3 linked regions of the Homo sapiens genome follow. The protein of the gene in region 1 purifies or fractionates together with the protein of each later gene. This does not show direct contact. Each region holds a gene or a part of one and is shown in the gene's direction. Other genes may lie near its edges. The genes, in order: GMFG, PRUNE1 and LANCL2.

Evidence for each region.
Region 2: the proteins of GMFG (region 1) and PRUNE1 purify together in Homo sapiens (affinity purification with mass spectrometry; 2 studies listed by BioGRID and IntAct, with this or other methods). This does not show direct contact.
Region 3: the proteins of GMFG (region 1) and LANCL2 purify together in Homo sapiens (affinity purification with mass spectrometry; 2 studies listed by BioGRID and IntAct, with this or other methods). This does not show direct contact.

Annotation. Positions count from the first base shown.
Region 1 is NC_000019.10:39,327,794-39,333,089, reverse strand, and holds the end of GMFG (glia maturation factor gamma), read left to right. Parts: coding exon 1-13; intron 14-3,463; coding exon 3,464-3,546; intron 3,547-4,016; coding exon 4,017-4,090; intron 4,091-4,541; coding exon 4,542-4,613; 3' UTR 4,614-4,731; downstream 4,732-5,296.
Region 2 is NC_000001.11:151,025,353-151,032,463, forward strand, and holds part of PRUNE1 (exopolyphosphatase PRUNE1), read left to right. Parts: intron 1-162; coding exon 163-321; intron 322-1,880; coding exon 1,881-1,975; intron 1,976-3,433; coding exon 3,434-3,592; intron 3,593-7,111. UniProt on the Homo sapiens protein: Phosphodiesterase (PDE) that has higher activity toward cAMP than cGMP, as substrate. Plays a role in cell proliferation, migration and differentiation, and acts as a negative regulator of NME1. Plays a role in the regulation of neurogenesis.
Region 3 is NC_000007.14:55,360,613-55,368,409, forward strand, and holds the start of LANCL2 (lanC-like protein 2), read left to right. Parts: upstream 1-4,724; 5' UTR 4,725-5,413; coding exon 5,414-5,617; intron 5,618-5,742; exon of another isoform or gene 5,743-6,127; intron 6,128-7,797. UniProt on the Homo sapiens protein: Necessary for abscisic acid (ABA) binding on the cell membrane and activation of the ABA signaling pathway in granulocytes.

The DNA of each region.
Region 1 (5,296 bases):
AGAGACAGCCCAGGTATCCTGGGGGAAGAAAGGGTTGGATCAGGCCATGAGGGGAGGGGTGATGTTGGAGGTATAGGCTAAGGGACTGCTGGAGTTCCAGCCCTATTCATGGACTTTGAATCTCTGTGTTTGGCCGAGTGAGGTGGCTCATCCCTGTAATCCCAGCACTTTGGGAGGTCAAGGAGGGTGGATCACTTGAGGTCAGGAGTTCAAGACTAGCCTGACCAACATGGTGAAATCCCGTCTCTACTAAAAATACAAAAATTAACTGGGCGTGGTGGCATGTGACTGTAATCCCAGCTACTTGGGAGGCTGAGGCACGAGAATCGCTTGAACCTGGCAGGCAGAGGCTGCAGTGAGCTGAGATCACACCACTGCACTCCAGCCTGGGTGACACAGCGAGACTCTATCTCAAAAAAAAAAAAAAAAAAAAGAATCTCTGTGTTTGAGGCCAAGAGTTCATACTCTAGAACTTTTTGTTTGTATAGCAATATTTTATTGCAGAATTTTATACCGATTATTTATGATACCGGTTTAAGAGTCTTTTTTTTTTTTTTGTACAAACTTTGTTGAGTTTTTGTTTCAACATTACGCTGGCATCATTTTTTAAAAATGAAATTTTGGCCAGGTACTATGACTCCCACCTGTAATCTCAGCCCTTTGGGAGCCTGAGGCGGGAGGATCACCTGAGGCCAGGAGTTCGAGACTAGCCTGGGCAACATAGCAAGACCTTGTCTCTATTTTTTTTTTTTTTTTGTTAGAGACAGAGTCTCGCTCTGTTGCCCAGGTTGGAGTGCAGTGGCGCGATCTTGACTCACTGCAACCTCCGCCTCCTGGGTTCAAGCGATTCTCTGGCCTCAGCCTCCTGAGTAGCTGGGATTACAGGGGCCCACCACCATGTCTGGATAATTTTTGTATTTTTAGTAGAGACATGTTGGCCAGGCTGGTCTCGAACTCCTAACCTCAGGTGATCCCTGCTTCGGCCTCCCAAAGTGCTGGGATTACAGGCGTGAGCCACCGCGCCTGGTGGAGGACCTTGTCTCTATTAAAAAAAAAAAAAATTAGCCAGGCATGGTGGCATGTGCCTGTGGTTCCAGCTACTTGGGAGGCTGATGTCGGGGGTCAGTTGAGTTCAGGAAGCTGAGGCTGCAAGTGAGCCAAGATAGCACCCCTGTACTCCAGCCTGGGTGACAGAGCAAGACCCTGTCTCAAAAAAACAAAAAAAGAAATTTTCCTTCTTTTTCAATGTTTGGGAACACTTTAGGTAGCAAACAAATTAATTATTATTATTGTTATTTTATTAAAAAAATTTTTAGAGACAGGGTCTCACTGTGTCACCCAGGCTATTGGGCAGTGCTGTGATCCTGGCTCACTGTAGCCTCTAACTCCTGGGCTCAAGCCATCCTCCTGCCTCAGCCTCCCAAGTAACTGGGACTACAGGCACTGCCACTGCACCCTGCTAAAGGAATGACTCGACTTTTAACTATCAGGTAGAATCCTGGGCGAAGTCACATGAGCCTGGTGCTTTTTTTGGTGGAAGAGCTCTTTGACTATTTCTGTGAAAACTGGTCTGCTAAGATTTTTCATCTTGACTGAATTCATTTTGGGTCTCTAGGATTAGAGGCTGTAGGACTCAACAAGGACCAGCTTCATGGGCATATGATAATTGCACAGGGCCCCGCACCCAGGAGGGGGCCTCACACATGGGGGTTAACGGTCACCTTCTTTATAGTTTTATCTTTGAATTTCTGTTTTGTATGAAGTCAGATGGGACAATGGACTTCACACAAATGTGCTGGGGTTTGGAGCTAGGTTCACAGGCAGTCCACCACCTGGCTGCCTCCCTGAACAGGTTCTCAGCCACCCACTCTCTGCACCCACCCAGTGACCGCTGCTGTCCTTGGGTTTCCTGCTGGTGTAGGGAGGGTCAGGGTCCAGAAGGCACCCCTTGCCTGACAAGTTACAGGGTGTTCCTGTGAGCATCTGCACTCTGCCTGCGCATATCCTCATGCCCGAGGGAGCACGACTTTAAATAGCAAACTAAAAAAGACAGGCTGAGCGCAGTGGCTCACACCTGTAATCTCAGCACTTTGGGAGTCTGAGGTGGGAGTACTGCTTGTGGCCAGGAGTTCAAGACCAGCCTGGGCAACATAACAAGACCCCCATTTCTACTAAAATTTTTTAAAAAAAGGCCAGGCGCAGTGGCTCATGCCTGTAATCCCAGCACTTTGGGAGGCTGAGGTGGACAGATCACTTGAGCTCAGGAGTTCGAGACCAGCCTGGGCAACATGGTGAAACTCTGTCTCTGCAAAAAACACAAAAAACATTAGCTGGATGTGGTGGCACGCCCCTGTAATCTCAGCTACTTGGGGGGCTGAGGCAGGAGGATCACCTGAACCTGGGAGGTCGAGGCTGCAATGAGCTGAGACCACGTCCCTGTACTCCAACCTGGGTGACAAAGTGAGACCCTGTCTCAAAAAAAAAAAAAAAAAAATTAGCTGGGCATGGTGGTGTGCACCTATACTCCCAGCTACTCTGGAGGCTGAGATAGGAGGATTGCTTGAGCCCAGGAGTTCAAGACTGCAGTGAGCTAGGATCGCACCATTGCACTCCAGCCTGGGCAACAGAGTGAGGCCCTGTCTCTAATAACAGTAAAAAAAAAAGACGATGATCAGTCTAGAGAGAGACTACAAAAGAAAGGAAAACAATTTTCCTGCTTCTTGAACAAGATGCCCCACATTTTCATTTTATACCGGGCTTGGATGATTCTGTAGCCATCACTGGTCACAGTGCACCTGGGGTTCAAGTGCACTGGACAGAATTGCATAGGGGGTGAGAACTTACACGCTGGCATTCACTTTCCCAGGTTCAAATCTCTCCCCTATCTGTAGAACCTTAGGCAAGTGACTTTGGGCCTCAGTTTTCTCATCTGTACGATGGGGATATTAATAGCACCTATATTATAAAGTAATTGTGAGTCAAATGAGCACTATCATTATTATTATTATTTGAGATGGAGTTCCACTTTTGTCACCCACGCTGGAGTGCAATGGCGTGATCTTGGCTCACTGCAACCTCTGCCTCCTGAGTTCAAGCGATTCTCCTGCCTCAGCCTCCTGACTAGCTGGGATTACAGGCGCCCACCACTACTCCAGGCTAATTTTTGTATTTTTAGTAGAGACGAGGTTTCACCATGTTGGCCAGGCTGGTCTCGAACTCCTGATCTCAGGTGATCCACCCGCCTCGGCCTCCCAAAGTGCTGGGATTATAGGTGTGAGTCCTGCGCCCGGCCCTATGATTATTTTTTAATCATTTGTTGTGTTTGAGGTCAGTACCCTGAGTCCCAGACATCAACCCTGGGTTCTCAGACTCAGCCAACATTTCAAGGCTGTGGACTCAGGTAATGGCTGTTAAGCCTGGGCTGCAGGCCAGAGTCCTGATTTTCAATTCCCTTTCACGGTAGGTTCGTGGTTTACAGCTACAAGTACGTGCATGACGATGGCCGAGTGTCCTACCCTTTGTGTTTCATCTTCTCCAGCCCTGTGGGTGAGACACAGCTCTACTGTCCTCAGGAGAGGGTCTTCGATTCTGTGTGTGTGTGTTTGTGTGTAAATGCGAATGTGTGCAGGCACTTGTGTAAGAGTGTGAGCATGTGACAGCCTGTGTGTGACTGGGTGAGGATGTGTGTGTGTCGCACGCATGATGTGGGAGGGCAGTGAAGTGGAGGTGGGGGCTCAGATTCACCAAGAGCCCACCCGTTCTCAGTCCTGGGGCCTAAGCCAACCCACCTTTTCCTTTCACCTAGAAATCCCCGTCTGGCCCCTAAATCATCTCCAGAGACCCTCAGAATAACTTGAAGCCCCCAAGCCAACCTAGAAACTGAGTACAGTGCAGGGACCTCCTTAGAAGAGCTCCTAGGACCCTTGGCAAGCTGCAGGGCCTTCAGGACATTACTAGAGCTTTAGAGAACACGCCTGGGTCCCCACTGATGTGCCTTTCTCCTCTTTTCCACGCAGGCTGCAAGCCGGAACAACAGATGATGTATGCAGGGAGTAAAAACAGGCTGGTGCAGACAGCAGAGCTCACAAAGGTTCAGACTGGGATGGGGCTCCAGAGTGTTAGGGAGAGGTGGTGTGGGTCCTGGGTCTGAGGGAAGAGGGACTAGAGTCCTCACTGTCTCAGTGGTTTTTGTTTTTGTTTTTGTTTTTTTAAAGAACTGGGTCTCGCTCTGTCATCCAGGCTGGAGTGCAGTGGCACAACCTCGGCTCACTGCAACCTCCTCCTCCTGGGTTCAAGCAATTCTCCTGCCTCAGCCTCCCAAGTAGTGGGACGACAGGCACACGCCACCACACCTGGCTACTTTTTGTATTTTTAGTAGAGTCAGGGTTTCACCATATTGGCCAGGCTGGTCTCGAACTCCTGACCTTAAGTGATCCACCCACCTCAGCCTCCCAAAGTGCTCTCTTACAGGTGAGCCACCGTGCCCAGCCACTGTCTCAGTGTTTGAGTAGATCATAATGCCGAGACCTCTCTCTGCCCAGGTGTTCGAAATCCGCACCACTGATGACCTCACTGAGGCCTGGCTCCAAGAAAAGTTGTCTTTCTTTCGTTGATCTCTGGGCTGGGGACTGAATTCCTGATGTCTGAGTCCTCAAGGTGACTGGGGACTTGGAACCCCTAGGACCTGAACAACCAAGACTTTAAATAAATTTTAAAATGCAAAAACTCGGAGATCCTCAGTTTGGACTCAGTTTCTGCCTCTTCTGGGCTCTAGCCGACGGTTCCTGCAGTACGAGGCTTGGGCCAGCAGGGGGCGGGCTGACCTAGAGGAATGCGAGCTGGGTCCCGGGAGGGAAGGAGGATACCTCTTTCTTAGAAAGAAAGGGAAGGGCCTGAAGGATTTCCTTGGGGGGTGGGGGACGGATGGGCGAGGCCTGGGTCTCCTGGAGGTATTGGGGAAATATCTGGATCTACAGAGCGGTCACTCCCAAGGGGAACAAGGACCCCTGAGAATAAAGGAGGCAAAGTGCCCGTTTCCTCCCCCACTCCCCACCTCTGGGGGGTAGGAGGCATCACCGAATGCGACTTTTCTCAGCTGAGCCCTTAGATAGGAAGAATTTAAAGGCCGAAGAGGTTTGAACGTAATTGCTTCAGGATCTCAGGAGCTGCTGGGGGGTGGATGGTTTGTACGGTCAGGTAGGCCTGAACACCCAGGGCTGGGGAAGCTGAAGTCGATCCTGGGCCCTCGGTGGACTCCCAGGGGTGTGAGATTGAGGAGACAGGGAAGGGACACTTG
Region 2 (7,111 bases), on another chromosome or scaffold:
GGTCTGAGGACACTGTCCATCCCAGTTTCTCATTTTGCTTTCAGAGATTTTGCTATACAAATCTCCTTGTGTGTGTCCATTTGGTGTGAAGGTTATATATGTTCTGGTGGTTGTGTGTGAAGGGTCACAGGATTCAAGTTCCACCATCTCCCTTCTCCACAGGAACCATCATCCTGGACTGTGTCAACATGGACCTTAAAATTGGAAAGGCAACCCCAAAGGACAGCAAATATGTGGAGAAACTAGAGGCCCTTTTCCCAGACCTACCCAAGAGAAATGATATATTTGATTCCCTACAAAAGGCAAAGTTTGATGTATCAGGTATGAAATGTTAGCTGACTTTTCTGCCTCCCAGATAAGAAAACAGAAAGGCAAGCCTTGTTCATTATATTATTTTTTTTTTTTTGAGACAGAGTCTTGCTCTGCCACCCAGGCTAGAGTGCAGTGGCACAATCTTGGCACACTGCAACCTCGACCTCCTGGGTTCAAGCGATTCTCCTGCCTCAGCCTCCCGAGTAGCTGGGATTACAGGCGCCCACCACCACGCCCAGCTAATTTTGGTATTTTTAGTAAAGATCGGGTTTCACCATGTTGACCAGGCTGGTCTTGAACTCTGAAGCTCAGGTGATCTGCCCGCCTGGGCCTCCCAAAGTGCTGGGATTACAGGCATGAGCCACCGCGCCTGGCCAATTATTTAAATTTTATACCAGAAAGAAATGAAGTACCATATTAGCCTAAGCATGAAATAATCAGTCATTTACTGGATTGTTCTATCCTGGCTCTTGGTTAGGATGAGGAGGAATGTATTAAGAGCCTCAGAAGGGCCAGACGCAGTGGCTCACGCCTGTAATCCCAACACTTTGGGAGGCCGAGGTGGGCAGATCACCTGAGGTCAGGAGTTCAAGACCAGCCTAGCTAACATGGTGAAACTCCGTTTCTACTAAAAATACGAAAAATTAGCTGAGCGTGGTGGTGTGTGCCTGTAATCCCATCTACTCAGGAGGCTGAGGCAGGAAAATCGCTTGAACCCGGGAAGTGGAGGTTGCAGTGAGCCGAGATTGCGCCATTGTACTCCAGCTTGGGCAACGACAGCGAAACTCCGTCTCAAAAAAAAACAAAAAGAGCCTCATAGGTTCCAGTCTATTCAGAGAATACAGGACATATATATAAAATATGCTGAGAGTATACTAAATTATCAGAGTGAAATCTATAGAATTGGTTAGGGAGGCAAAAGAAATATTTTGTGAGTAAACAAAAGATGAAGAGAACCCAAAAAAAACTGTATTCTTGTACTCAGCTACCACCTGTTGACATAAAAAGGAAGAAAGAAAGAAAGAACTCACATGTAAACAGTATAGGAAGAGGGAAAGATAAAAAGTAAAAGCCTCTGTTCTGGGTTTCATCCTTCTCTCCAAAGTTACTTGCTCTAAAGGTACCTATTGTCACCAGTTATTTAAGATGGCTTTTGATTATGTGATTACATTTTCTTTCTTTCTTTTTTTTTTTTTTTTTTGAGACAGAGTCCAGGTTCAAGTGATTCTCCTGCTTCAGCCTCCTGAGTAGCTGGGATTACAAGTGCCCGCCACCACACCCAGCTAATTCTTTGTATTTTTAGTAGAGACAGAGTTTCATCATGTTGACCAGGCTGGTCCCAAACTCCTGACCTCAGGTGATCCGCCCACCTCAGCCTCCCAAAGTGCTGGGATTACAGGCCTGAGTCACCGCGCCCGGCTATGATTACATTTTCAATTATCTCCCCCATTCATTGCCCCAAAGAGAGGCTGTTTTTCCTTCCTTGACCCATCTGGCTGTCCTTGCCTTCTTGGTCTTGGGACCCTGGCCTACCCTGTTTGACCCCTAGTCTCTCATCTGCTTTCTAGGACTGACCACTGAGCAGATGCTGAGAAAAGACCAGAAGACTATCTATAGACAAGGCGTCAAGGTGGCCATTAGTGCAATATATATGGATTTGGAGGTAAGAGCAAGTTGTGGCTGTGGGTGGGGAGAGAAAGCCTTTAGCTATGCATGTTATGCATGTGGCCTTGCACCTCATTCCTGGCTCACCTCCAAAATGTATCTTGTGTCTATCTTTGTCTCTACCTCCACTGTGACCACCAGAGTCCAGCATCTCTCACTGCACCGCTGTATTAGCCTCAGTACTGGTGTCCCTGCCTCTGCTTTTGCAGCCCTACAAACCATTCTCCCCGCAGCAGCCAGAGTGGTCTTTTTTAATTTTTTTTTTTTTTTTTTAAGGGAGTCATGCTTTGTTGCCAGGCTAGAGTACAGTGGTACCATCATGGCTCACTGCAGCCTCAACCTTCCAGGCTCAAGCAATCCTCCCACCTTAGCCTCTCGAGTAGCTGGGTCCACAGGTGCACACCACCACACCTAACTAGTGTGTGTGTGTGTGTGTGTGTGTGTGTGTGTGTGCGCGCGCGTGTATGTATGTGTCGATGGGGTCTCACTATGTTGCCCAGGCTGGTCTCAAACTCCTGGCCTCAAGCAGTTCTCCTTTTGGCCTCCGAAGTTCTGGGATTATAGGCGTGAGCCACTGTGCCCGGCCTCATTGTATTTTTAATAAAATCTAAAGGACTTACTGTGGTTTACAGCGCCATGCTTGATCTGGCCCTTGTCTTTTTCTCTGGCCTCATCTCATTCCAGCTCCACTCCTGTTCTACAGTACTGCAGCCACACTGGTTTCTTTTCTGTTCCTCAGAACCATTAAGCTCATTCCCAGCTGAGCTTTTTTCTTTGTAAAGCTGGCTCCTTCTTAACATTCAGGTACTCAGCTCAGATGTCTCTTGTTTTGGGAGGTTTTTCCTGACCACCCTAACTGAAGTACTATCTCCTATGCTCAAAAAACCTCTAGCAGTTATGTATGTATGTTTGTTTGTTTGTTTGTTTTGAGCCTGAGTCTTATTCTGTTGCCCAGGATGGAGTGGAATGGCATGATCTCAGCTCACTGCAACCTCTGCCTCCCGGGTTCAAGTAATTCTCCTGCCTCAGCCTCCCTAGTAGCTGGGATTACTGGTGCGTGCCGGCATGCCCAGCTAATTTTTTGTTTTGTTTTGTTTTGTTTTTGTTTTTTGAGACGGAGTTTCGCTCTTGTCCCCCAGGCTGGAGTGCAATGGCGCAATCTCAGCTCACTGCAACTTCCGCCTCCCTGGTTCAAGCGATTCTCCTGCCTCAGCCTCCTGAGTAGCTGGGATTACAGGCATATGCCCCCATGCCCGGCTAATTTTTGTATTTTTACCAGAGACAGGGTTTCACCATGTTGGCTAGGCTGGTCTCGAACTCCTGACCTCAAGTGATCACCTGCCTCGGCCTCCCAAAGTGCTAGGATTATAGGCGTAAGCGACCGTGCCCGGCCCAAGGATGTTTTATTGATGATGATGAGAAAGTCCTTCATCCCTCTCCGTTTCTTCCCTTTCAGGCCTTTCTGCAGAGGTCTAACCTCCTTGCAGATCTCCATGCTTTCTGCCAGGCTCACAGCTATGATGTCCTGGTTGCCATGACTATCTTTTTCAACACTCACAATGAGCCAGTGCGGCAGTTGGCTATTTTCTGTCCCCATGTGGCACTCCAAACAACGGTGAGTCTGTGTCCCTTCTCCAACCTAAGAGCCTTACAGAGTCTGCCTGTATGTACCTCTGTGCTCTACAGCTGTCCTATAAGGACCTCTCTTAGGTTCTTATATTAATGTACTTACATGAGGTCCCTTGACCTGTTTCTGGACCTGTTTCCTCCCCTTTCTGCTTTTTCCCATTCTCTCTCTATATGAATATCCTTTTTTTTTTTTTAATGAACATCCTTAATCATAGCATTGTTGAGAAAGGGGGAATTCCAAAGAGAACTAGAGATTCAATTCCTACTTTGAAAGAACGAAATCTAGTTAGAAGGAAATGTTATAAATCCGGAGTTAAAATTCCCTTCTTGAGCTAGGGACAGTGGCACGTGCCTGTAGTCCCAGCAACTCGGGAGGCTGATGCAGAAGGATTGCTTAAGCTGGAAAGTTTTTTTTTTTTTTTTTTTTTTGAGACAGTCTTGTGCTGTTGCCCAGGCTGGGGTGCAGTGGCACAATCTCGGCTCACTGCAAGCTCTGCCTCCTGGGTTAACGCCATTGTCCTGCCTCAGCCTCCCGAGTAGCTGGGACTACAGGCGCCCGCCACCACGCCCGGCTAATTTTTTGTATTTTTAGTAGAGACGGGGTTTCACCGTGTTAGCCAGGATAGTCTCGATCTCCTGACCTCGTGATCCGCCCGCCTTGGCCTCCCAAAGTGCTGGGATTACAGGCGTGAGCCACCGCGCCCAGCCGAGCTGGAAAGTTTGAGTCCAGCCTGGGCAAAGATAGCAAGACCTCATCTCTGTTGGGGAAAAAAAAAAACAAAAACTCTATTCTTGGTTTAATCATTAATTCCTCACCCCTGGAATTATGCTGTTGCCTTGAAAATTAGAAATACGAGAGACCTTTTCTGCTACTTACTATGCAGGGATTAATTATTCTGTATAGTGCAAACTCTGTAAAGAAGTGATCTAGATCCAGATTTGGCTATCTTTCCTACTTCCTCCCCCTTCTGTTCCTCTGCTGGTTACTGATTAGCCTAGGGAAGAATTTAAAAGTGGGCTTAAGGCTGGGTGCGGTGGCTCACACCTGTAATCCCAGCACTTTGGGAAGCTGAGGCGGGCAGATCACGAGAGCAAGAGATCAAGACCATCCTGGCCAACATGGTGAAACCCCATCTCTTTTAAAAATACGGAAATTAGCTGGGCGTGGTGGTGCGTGCCTATAGTCCCAGCTACTCAGGAGGCTGAGGCAGGAGAATCTCTTGAACCTCGGCAAGCAGAGGTTGCAGTGAGCCGAGATTGCGCCACTGTACTCCATCCTGCCAACAGAGCAAGACTCCGTCTCCAAAAAAAAAAAAAAAAAAGGTGGGCTTAAGGCAGTTCAGGGATTCTGAGGGTTGCCTAGGCTCTGTGAGGACTGCTAAAGACAGAATACAGCCAGATAATCCTTTGCTCTCATAGAAGGTATGTCTGTCCTTTCCCGCCCCCCTTTGCCTTTGCCTTCTCCCCAGGAAGCAAATCTGATTTCATTCAGTGTAAGGTAGTTCGTCATTATGAAAAGAACTGCAGTTTTGTCTGTTTGTTTGTTTTTTAAGATGGAGTCTCACTCTGTCGCCCAGGCTTGAGTACAGTGGTGTGATCTTGGCTCACTGCAACCGCCACCTCCCAGGTTCAGTCAGTTCTCCCACCTCAGCCTGTAGCTGGGACTACAGGCGCCTGCCACCATGCCTGACTAATTTTTGTATTTTTAGTAGAGATGGGGTTTCACCATGTTAGCCAGGCAGGTCTCGAACTCCTGACCTCAAGTGATCCACCTGCCTTGGCCTTCCGAAGTGCTGGAATTACAAGCCTGAGCCACTGCACCTGGCCAAGAACTGCAGTTTTTAAAGTCAGGTAGATGTGCTTTTCTGTTCTAGGTTTGCCTCTTACTCACTCTTTGAGCTAAGGCAAGTCAGTTGACTTCTGCATCTGGAAATGGCATAATAGTACCTACTGCTAATTCTGCTATGATCATTAAACGTAATATCATGTGTAAAGCACACTCCTGGAGCAGAGTAAGCACTTTGTAAATAGTGGCTCTTACTAATCCTGTCAGTAAGAAAAGGGTGCTTTGGCCATTAGAAGTACCTCTTCCACGTTCCTGAATCTTCTCCCCTCTGTGCTGCTCTTTTAAAGCTGTGTGGATTTCTAATGACTCTACCATTGTCTAGGTTGCCCCTATGCTTGGAAACAGGAGTCCTTCTCTCTCTGTTTTGTTTTTGTGTGTGTGTGTGTGTGTTTTTTTTTTTTTTTGAGATGTCTCACTCTGTTGACCAGGCTGGAGTGGTACAATGGCACTATCTCAGCTCACTGCAACCTCTGCCTCCCGGGTTCAAGCAATCCTCCCAGCCTCCCAAGTAGCTGCGGCTACAGGCACACCACCATGGCTAGCTAATTTTTTTTGTATTTTTTGTAGGGACAGAGTCTCGCTATGTTGCCCAGGCTGGTCTCGAACTCCTGGACTCAAGTGATCCACCAGCCTCAGCTTCCCAGAGTTCTGGAATTGCAGGTGTGGGCCACTATGCCCAGCCAGGAGTCCTTTTCTTACAGTCTACTCTACCATCTCCTCTCTTTCTCCTATGTTAGGGGTAGTATAATATATTGATTTAGAACACTGGCTTTGGTGACAGCTCTGGGCTCAGTGTCAGTTTTGCTTCATGCAAATTATGACCTTAGGCAAGTTACCTGATCATTGAAGCCTCAGTTTCCCTGCATGTAAGTGAGGGTAATAGTGATACCAGTCTTATTTTGTTCAATTCATTCTTTCTTCCTCCATCCCTCTTCTGGCCTCTAGATAAATTCTAGTTCCATCCTAGTTCAAGTTCTTGAGCACATTTATACACTTGGAAACGACACTAGATTAGAAGCTGGGGTTCCTCGGTTCTGGTTTAACTGCCATCATCTGCATGATTTTACTCACAACCATCTTACTTCGCTTTAGTTACTTTAATAATAAAATGAAATATACAATCTAAACTGTTTCCTCTGTTTTTAAAATACTGTGTATGGCTGGGTATGGTAGCTCATGCCTGTAATCCCAGAACTTTGGGAGGCTGAGCTGGGCAGATCACCTGAGCTCAGGAGTTTGAGACCAGCCTGGCCAATATGGCGAAACCCCGTCTCTACTAAAAATACAAAAATTAGCTGGGCATGATGGCAGGTGCCTGTAATCCCAGCTACTCAGGAGGCTGAAGCAAGAGAATTGCTTGAATCTGGGAGGCGAAGGTTGCAGTGAGCTAAGATCGTGCCACTGTACTCCAGCCTGGGTAACAGAGCAAGAATCCATTTCAAAAAAAAAAAAATTAAAGTAAAATAAAATAAATAAAACACTGTGTATGAATCCCAGCACTTTCGGAGGCTGAAGCAGGAGGATTGCTTGAGACCAGGATTTGGAGACCAGCCTGGGCAACATAGCAAGACCCCATCCCTAGTCTATTAAATAAAAAATACAAAATACTAAAATAAAATACTGTGGGCCAGGCTTGGTGGCTCACACCTGTAATCCTAG
Region 3 (7,797 bases), on another chromosome or scaffold:
CTTAAGAGGAATTCTCACCCATTCTTAGAGGGCAGCCTTACCCATAGTTTCAACAATGTCAAAATGCCTCACACTAAGCCCAACATCCCATGAGAGATGGACACATGCCAGGCAGGGGGATGGTTTCTGTGCTATTATCTGCTTGGGACACCAGATAGTGAAGTAGCTAGCCAGCACATTCTTTATAAAAGGAGAAGCTGCATCAAATGAAGTCCAGGCTGTGTCAAAAGAAGCCTATTTCTTTGCATGGAGAAGTAAGAAAATAATCACGTAGGCGGGGCGCGGTGGCTCACGCCTGTAATCCCAGCACTTTGGGAGGCCGAGATGGGTGGATCACGAGGTCAGGAGATCGAGACCATCCTGGCTAACATGGTGAAACCCCGTCTCTACTAAAAATACAAAAAAATTAGCTGGGCGTGGTGGTGGGAGCCTGTAGTCCCAGCTACTCAGGAGGTTGAGGCAGGAGAATGGTGTGAACCTGGGAGACGGAGCTTGCAGTGAGCCGCGATCGTGCCACTGCACTCCAGCCTGGGCAACAGAGCGAGACTCCACCTCAAAAGAAAAGAAAAGAAAAGAAAATAATCATGTAGGTAAAGGCAGAAACAGCAACCTGAGACCTGAGGCAGTACCTTATGGCACTTGTTAAGGAAAAATACTTTTGGATGTTTTAGAGGAAAGATCTGACCGCTGCAGCTGCTCTTTGTGCCAGGTAAAGCAGATCCCACTAACCTGTGTATACTGTGAACAGTAGCATAGTAACTCATATTGCACTGGCTCATTGCCTGCAAACCAGTCTCCTCCCAAATCTTAAGAGTTGTCCTGGTATGTGTCTTATGTTCATGAACAGGTCTACTCCCTGAGTGCTGCCACTGCTCTTCAGGGTGCCATACTGTCTCTGTCATGCTGACAGGCATGATGGCCGCAGCACCAGAACCCTCAGAGTCCCCATACATGTGGTCTGCAGTGAGGTGGTGAAAATGTAGTTATTGGCAGAGCAGTTCCTTCACTCAGCATGAGTACCTTCTCTTCTGCTACCACCCTTCCACAGGTGGTACTGTGGACAGAGACCCTGTTTTCTATTCTTTCATGATCAGTCAGGTGCGGCCACAATGGGGACACGGGGGAGGCACAGAAAAGTTGACTGTGCTTCCAGGTCCTAGAGAGGCAGTCACTGTGCACCATGAAGGGGCCACCCTGCAAAGGGAGGGGCTCCACCACGTGGAAGGAGAGCAGAGGGAGTGGGGACCTGTGGGCCAATGCTGTCACTGGGGGTCAGGGTGGACACAAGCAAAAAGCAGGCGGGGCTTCATCGGTGTGTTGAGCGTCTCAATATTACAGGAAAATTATTCAATGTCAACTGTTAAAGCACAGGGTCTTAATTTGTTTTCTGTTGCTTATAATATAATACCTGAAACTAGGTAATTTATAAAGAAAGGGAATTTATTTTTTACAGTTTTGGAGTTGGAGAAGTCCAAGGTCAAAGGGCCACACATGGCGAGGGCCTTCTTGTTGATGGGGAGTCTCTGCAGAGTTTCCAGGCAGCACAGAGCACCCCATGGTAAGGGGTTGAGTGTGCCAGCTCAGGTCTCTCTTCTTCATATAGAGCCACAGTCCCACTCCGAGACAACCTGCTAATCCCTTCGTCCACGAATGGATTACTGTCACACTGGGGATTAAGTCTCAACATGACTTTTAGAGAGGAAAAACATTCACACCATTCACAGCACAGGGTAAGGCTGACTTTATTGAGACCTTAACGGTATGGGGACCACCACGATGGGATTTTGCAGTGTGGGAGAAAGATTGAGCTTAATTCCCAATACAAGTGGAAATGGATAGCCAAGAAGCAAGGTGGGGGTGACTGGATGGAAAATTACTAAGAGATAACATGAAGGGGAAGGTGGGTACTGACTAATCTTACCTAATAGGCTTCTTGCTGAACACAGGCCAGGTTGATCCAACATCACCTAGGGGATAGTGAGGGATAGGGAACCTGGTCAAATAATGGGGGTGATCACATATTAGGGGGTGGTTCTTCCTAAAGTGACTTAGCAAGGCTGTTTGCTAAAACTGGATTTTATAAGGAAGTGTGCAGATGGGCCTTGGAGGAGATTCAGGAACCTGACTAGTTTGGTAGAACAAAGAATCTCTGTCACTAGGTCACAGTCCGGGAGGGCAGGAAGGGGAACTGTGGCAGGGCCAGCTCACCACACTGGGGCATCTGGTCACCTGGGCGGGGTGGGGGAGAGGGGGGCTCACTGCCTGTTTTCCGTGTTGAGGCTGCAGGGAAGCGTGAAGTTTTGAAATACATAATACAGGCCCCACGTGGTTCTGACCCAGCACCACGCAGTTCTCAGAACCACACATTCTAGCCCTGCAAGCACCTGAGGCTTGGTTCCCGGGCCAGAGGCTGGTACCTGACTCTGGGGTAAAGAGGAGAGCCGGGGCTGTCTGCGGGGCCTCAGGGCTCGGCGATGGCTGAACCCCACAGTGAGAGCCCTCGTGCCCCAGGTTTTCCATCGTCTTCCTCTCACCTTTGGGGCGCTCCAGATAAGAAGTGGCGTTTCTCAGGGAGGCGCCCCCACCTCAGCTCCTCCTGTCTCAGGCCCCACTTGGTGGGGAGCCGCCGCAGGCGGGGAGCCCGGGCTTGCCCCTGCGGGCAGTCACCGCTGCCCTGTGCCCCGAAACCACCCTCCCCGCCCCCCAGTGACCTCCCACCTCCGGGGTTCCTCTCCGCCTTGCTGCCTGCTTTGGCTTTAGAAGGGAGCTCAAGCTCAGCGGCTTTTGGGGCAGCCACGTTAGGTGCTGGGGAATGGAAGAGGATGACACTGCCTATTTTGACTCAGATCTTCAAGGATGAGCACACCCTCCCCTGGTAGCAACTTCTGCACCCGCCGGCCACCCCGTAGGGCCCTGCCCCGCACCGCACCCGGTGGCCTCCCCGGAGGGCCGTGACCCAAGCACCGCACCCGGCGGCTTCCCCAGGTGCTGCTCCGCCCAGTGCCCCCCCAGATCTCAACGTGGTGCCACAATGCCGCCCTCTCGCACATCGTGTCCTTGGACTATGTCTTCCTTTGAAAGGTCAGTTGCCAGGGGCCCTCACGACTCCTTGGGTGTGCTTTGGGCCGGCATGTATGTCCTCTTGCCCTTCTCTTACACAGAAGAGTGGGGAGGGTGTCCTAAGAATTTGGCTTGTCCTAAGGAAAATAAAGTTGTAATTTCAAGGCACTGACCAAGGTCTCTGTACTACTCAAGAGCTCAAGAGTGGCCACGGGGGAAGATAGCCCTGGGTGTAAAAGGGCCGCAGAAGGGAATCCCCTGTGCTCTGCATTAAAAAACCCCCAGGGGACAGGAGGCTGAAGAAAGGGAACCTACCACTTCTCCATAAAATAGTGTCAGTGAGCTGTCCAGGAGGGCAGGGGATCTGCCGATAAGAGAGCATTTAGGAAAATATGCCGACTCCTTAAATTGGGTTTCGATTTTTCAGCTTTTGAAAATATTGGTTTTCTTTAGGACAGGTTTCTGTACTTGCCAACAGTTGCCAGTTATCCACCAGCAGACTGCAGGAAGAAGAGACAATCTTCACCTCCCTCCTGGGTAGGGAGAGCTGAGAATTCACTAGGCTTAGCCTAACAAAGCCCGCAGTGGACGTTTCTGCTGTACCTGTCCAAGGCGTGATAGTTCCCCAGACTTTGGGGAATATCACCGTGGGTTATTTTGTCTAGTTAAGTCCCTGTGGTGGGATAAGGATGGCTCCTAGAGCATGTCGGCATCAGTAGTTCCTGGAGTGGATTTTCCTACACCGTCTAGGTATGAAAATTTGGTGGGAGAAAAGACCCCAGGAAAGGGGAAAGCAGGAAAGTGGAGCTAAGGGATGCTGCTATAACACTCATCCTGTTGTATCTGTTCTGTTTCCCTGAACTTTGAAGATAGTTATGCTGAGTACCCCCTTTAAAATGATTTTCTTCTACACTGTACCTTCCCATGGTCATGTTCTTGGTGGGGTGTGTTTCACATGTCCAGCCCTGTGGGGTTGGGGGGACACTAGAAGAGGTAGTGGGAAGCCAGACTTTCCCACATCATTCCACCGAGGCCACGGAGGCAGGAGGAACCGAGCCTTCCCTGTGCTCGGCACTGTGTTTTTCTTCATCATGTCACTTTTTACATTAACGTGTATTTTTGCTTGCTTCCAGAAAAGCACCTACATCAGCTATGCTGTAATCCTTGCTTTTCTCACCCAATAACTGGGAATCCCCAGAGAGCCAAAACTATCTTTTTAATCTCTTATTTCTTCATCACCTAGTACCATTTGGTGCTCAATCAACGTTTACTGAGCGGAAGAAAACGGAAATAAGACATTTTCCTCAAGGAGCAGAAATCATTACACGTATTTGGTCCAAACAAATAAAAATAAAGAGAACCAATGAAGACTGAAGTAAACCACATCACGATTACATAAATGTAAAGATCTGGTTGCTTGTGTCCTTTTTATAATACATACTATGATCTTTGCCAATTAACACTGGAGGACTCTTTCTGGTCGATAAAATGTTTGGATAATTAAGTATGCTTTCATTTTATGTCCCGGTATCAAAGATGTCCATTTATTCAAAACAAAGGGAGTGAACATAAAACATAAAAAGAAAAAAAAAAAGGCCTGTGGCTCCTCCTCCCAGACACCCCCCTCCAACAGTGATGAATAGGAGGGACTGTCTCCCTCCCCCATCCCTCGGAGACTAGCCTTGCAGTGTTTTAGACTGTTTTGAAATTCTGTTCTTTAGAAGAGATTTTTTTTTTCTTCTTAATATCAAACAAAGAACTGCTGCTATTCCTTTGGGCTGGCGCAGCAGGGGCCGGTGAAATGCAGGCTGACGACGGCGCGCCAGGGGCTGAGCTCGCCCCGGTCGGCGACGCGCACACACCTTGAGTGACAGCGACCTCTTCTCTACAGGTTTTCCCCGCGGGAGCGTGGCCCTAGCGGGCGTTCGGTTTTCTTTGGAAATCGCGGAGGGGGCTGGCCGGGCGCAGCGATCCCCACCCCGGGACTCCAGCCCCGGCCGTGCGCGTCGCCGCGGACGGGCTCTGCGGGCCACGGGGAAGGTGCGAGGAGGCGCGAGCAGGCTGTGAGCCGCTGGGCGCTCCCGCGAGCCCGCTCCTCTCCGTCGGGAGCAGGGCAAAGGCGCCAGGAACAGGGCAGAGGCACAGCGCCCACCGCCTCTGCGGCCGCCTGATGTGCGAGCAGCCCGCGACGAGGCAGTGCACGCTCAGACGCCCCGCTCCTCCCGCCAGCGCGCGGCCTCGCTCCTCCTAGAGGACGCTCTCTGCGCGGGCCCTCGGAGGAGGCGGCGGCGGGGCGAGCTGCAGCGCCGGGACAGGAGGTTTGTCCCCGCCCGCGCGCCGTACCGCGGCGGAGATGGGCGAGACCATGTCAAAGAGGCTGAAGCTCCACCTGGGAGGGGAGGCAGAAATGGAGGAACGGGCGTTCGTCAACCCCTTCCCGGACTACGAGGCCGCCGCCGGGGCGCTGCTCGCCTCCGGAGCGGCCGAAGAGACAGGCTGTGTTCGTCCCCCGGCGACCACGGATGAGCCCGGCCTCCCTTTTCATCAGGACGGGAAGGTGAGTCGGCGGCCTGGCCGCAGAGGCGCCGGAGGGGGAGCGCGGCGGTGGTAGCGTCCACCTTCCGCCAGGCGTGACGTCACAGGCGCGCGCCGGGCTTGGGAGGGCGCGGGATGATAGCGCCTAGCACCTGTCTCCGGGCCTTCCCGATGAGCCGCGCTTAGGGTCCGTGGGCTTCAGCTGCATGAACCACGTTCCAGCAGTTCGGCCCTCCTGGCCCCAACGCGCCTTTGAAATACGCGGACAGTGCGCTTTCCTTCTTGGCCCGAGCGGCGCTTCGCAATGCGGGCTTGTGCACTCGTGAGGCCCGCGGACACCTCCCGCCCCTGCGCGGCGGAGCGCTCCGCCGGCTACCTGCTCCTCAGAAGTGGCCTGGAGGCTGGATTTCCTTGGCCATATCTGGTCCCTGGGCTCTCGCCGACAAAGAAGCATTGTCCGTACTGTCTGTGTGCCCAGAAATGGGAAGCGGGTGTAAGGGGAGGCCAAACTTGACTTTCTTAGTGTCGCGAGGTGGGTCAGAGCGTTACATTGACATAAAACAGATTAACAACAGAAAAACATACATCTCTTGAATATGTTTTACGTGAAAAAGACACAAAGAAATGGCAAAACCCAAATACTTTTGTGCTAGGCAGAACCAAGAGCGGCAGCTGTGGGAGAGTAAAGTGTGCGGGGAGGCTAATGGAAGATGGAACTGCTTGAACCACGTCTAGGTAGAAATCTCCGCCTTGCTCGGCTCTGGTGCCGAGTGTTTCTTTGTTCCTGGTGTAGGGAGGCCATGTTTTACAGGAGTTTTCTCTTGTTTCATGAAGAAAAGGGGGCAGTTTAGAGCACTCTTCTGTTTTTCAAGTGCTTTTAGCTTAAAATAATCCTTATGCCAGAGACATATTTTTGGGATGGCATACCCTGTCACCCTTCACGGGCTATCTGAACAGAATCTAACGTGGGAGGCAAAAAGTGGGAATAAAACAGAAGATTGAATATCAGCACAACTGTTTTCATGCTTGGTAAAACCGTACCTTTACCAGGTTTTCTTTTTCCACTGAGGTACGTGTTCCAATGGCCACTTCACCTCCTTGGATCTCCATGTATTTCATATTTGGCTAAAACTAAGAAGGTAATTTTGAAAGAGCCATTGGTCTGAATATGGAATCTAAGGCAAGTGACTTCTGTAAACCTCTCTCTTCTTGAATGTGGTTAAAAACTCGAAACAGGCCGGGCGCGGTGGCTCACGCCAGTAATCCCAGCACTTTGGGAGGCCGAAGCGGGCTGATTGCTTGAGCCCAGCAGTTCGAGACCAGCCTGGCCAACATGGCAAAACACCGTCTCTACAAAAGAAAAATACAAAAATTAGCCGAGCGTGGTGGTGGACGCCTGTTCAGCTACTCAGGAGGCCGAGGTATGAGAATCGCTTGAGCCTCGGAGGTCGAGGTTGCAGTGAGTGGAGATTGCGCCATTGCACTCCAGCCTGGGCGACAGAGCTAGACGCAGTCTCAAAAACCAAAAGCAAGCAAACCTGTGGGAACAAGTCCTAACTGATGGGGATGTGTCTGAATTAGATGAAGCATATAAATTGCCTAGCAAACTGCCTGATGTGGTACCTTAAGAAAGGCCTCAATAAATGTTAATCTCTTCCCCTTGATGATTTAAGTTACACGGTTTAGATTCATATTCAATATTGGTTTTTCTCTAGATTTCTTCTATTTTTACATACAAATATGTGTTTCATTTGTGACTTAGTGTTTCATTTTTTAATAACAAAAATAAAAATCTGGCAAGCATTGAAAAAACTGCATCATTCATTCTTATTACCAGTGGCCATCTCAGTACTATCCTTGGAGTAGGTAGGTTACAGCAATGCTTAGTGAAAGATGAATGAAATGAACTCTTGACATGAGAATAACAAAAATAATGTTAGAGACATGGGAAGCAGGTGAGTTTCATTTGCAGCCTCACAGGAGATAAACACTAATTCAACTCAAAGTTTTGAAATTGGGTATTTTTCTTTTTAGCCTTTGTATCTGGATAAATGTGATTTTTGACCTCAGTTATATACCTGATTTATGTTGAAAAGAAAATTAGACTACAAGTAACTAATGGGGCTTGTGATATCTCTGCAATGAAATGTAAGTTGGGGTGGGGACCTATGCCAGTGGTTGTGAGTATATGCTAAAGAAAGA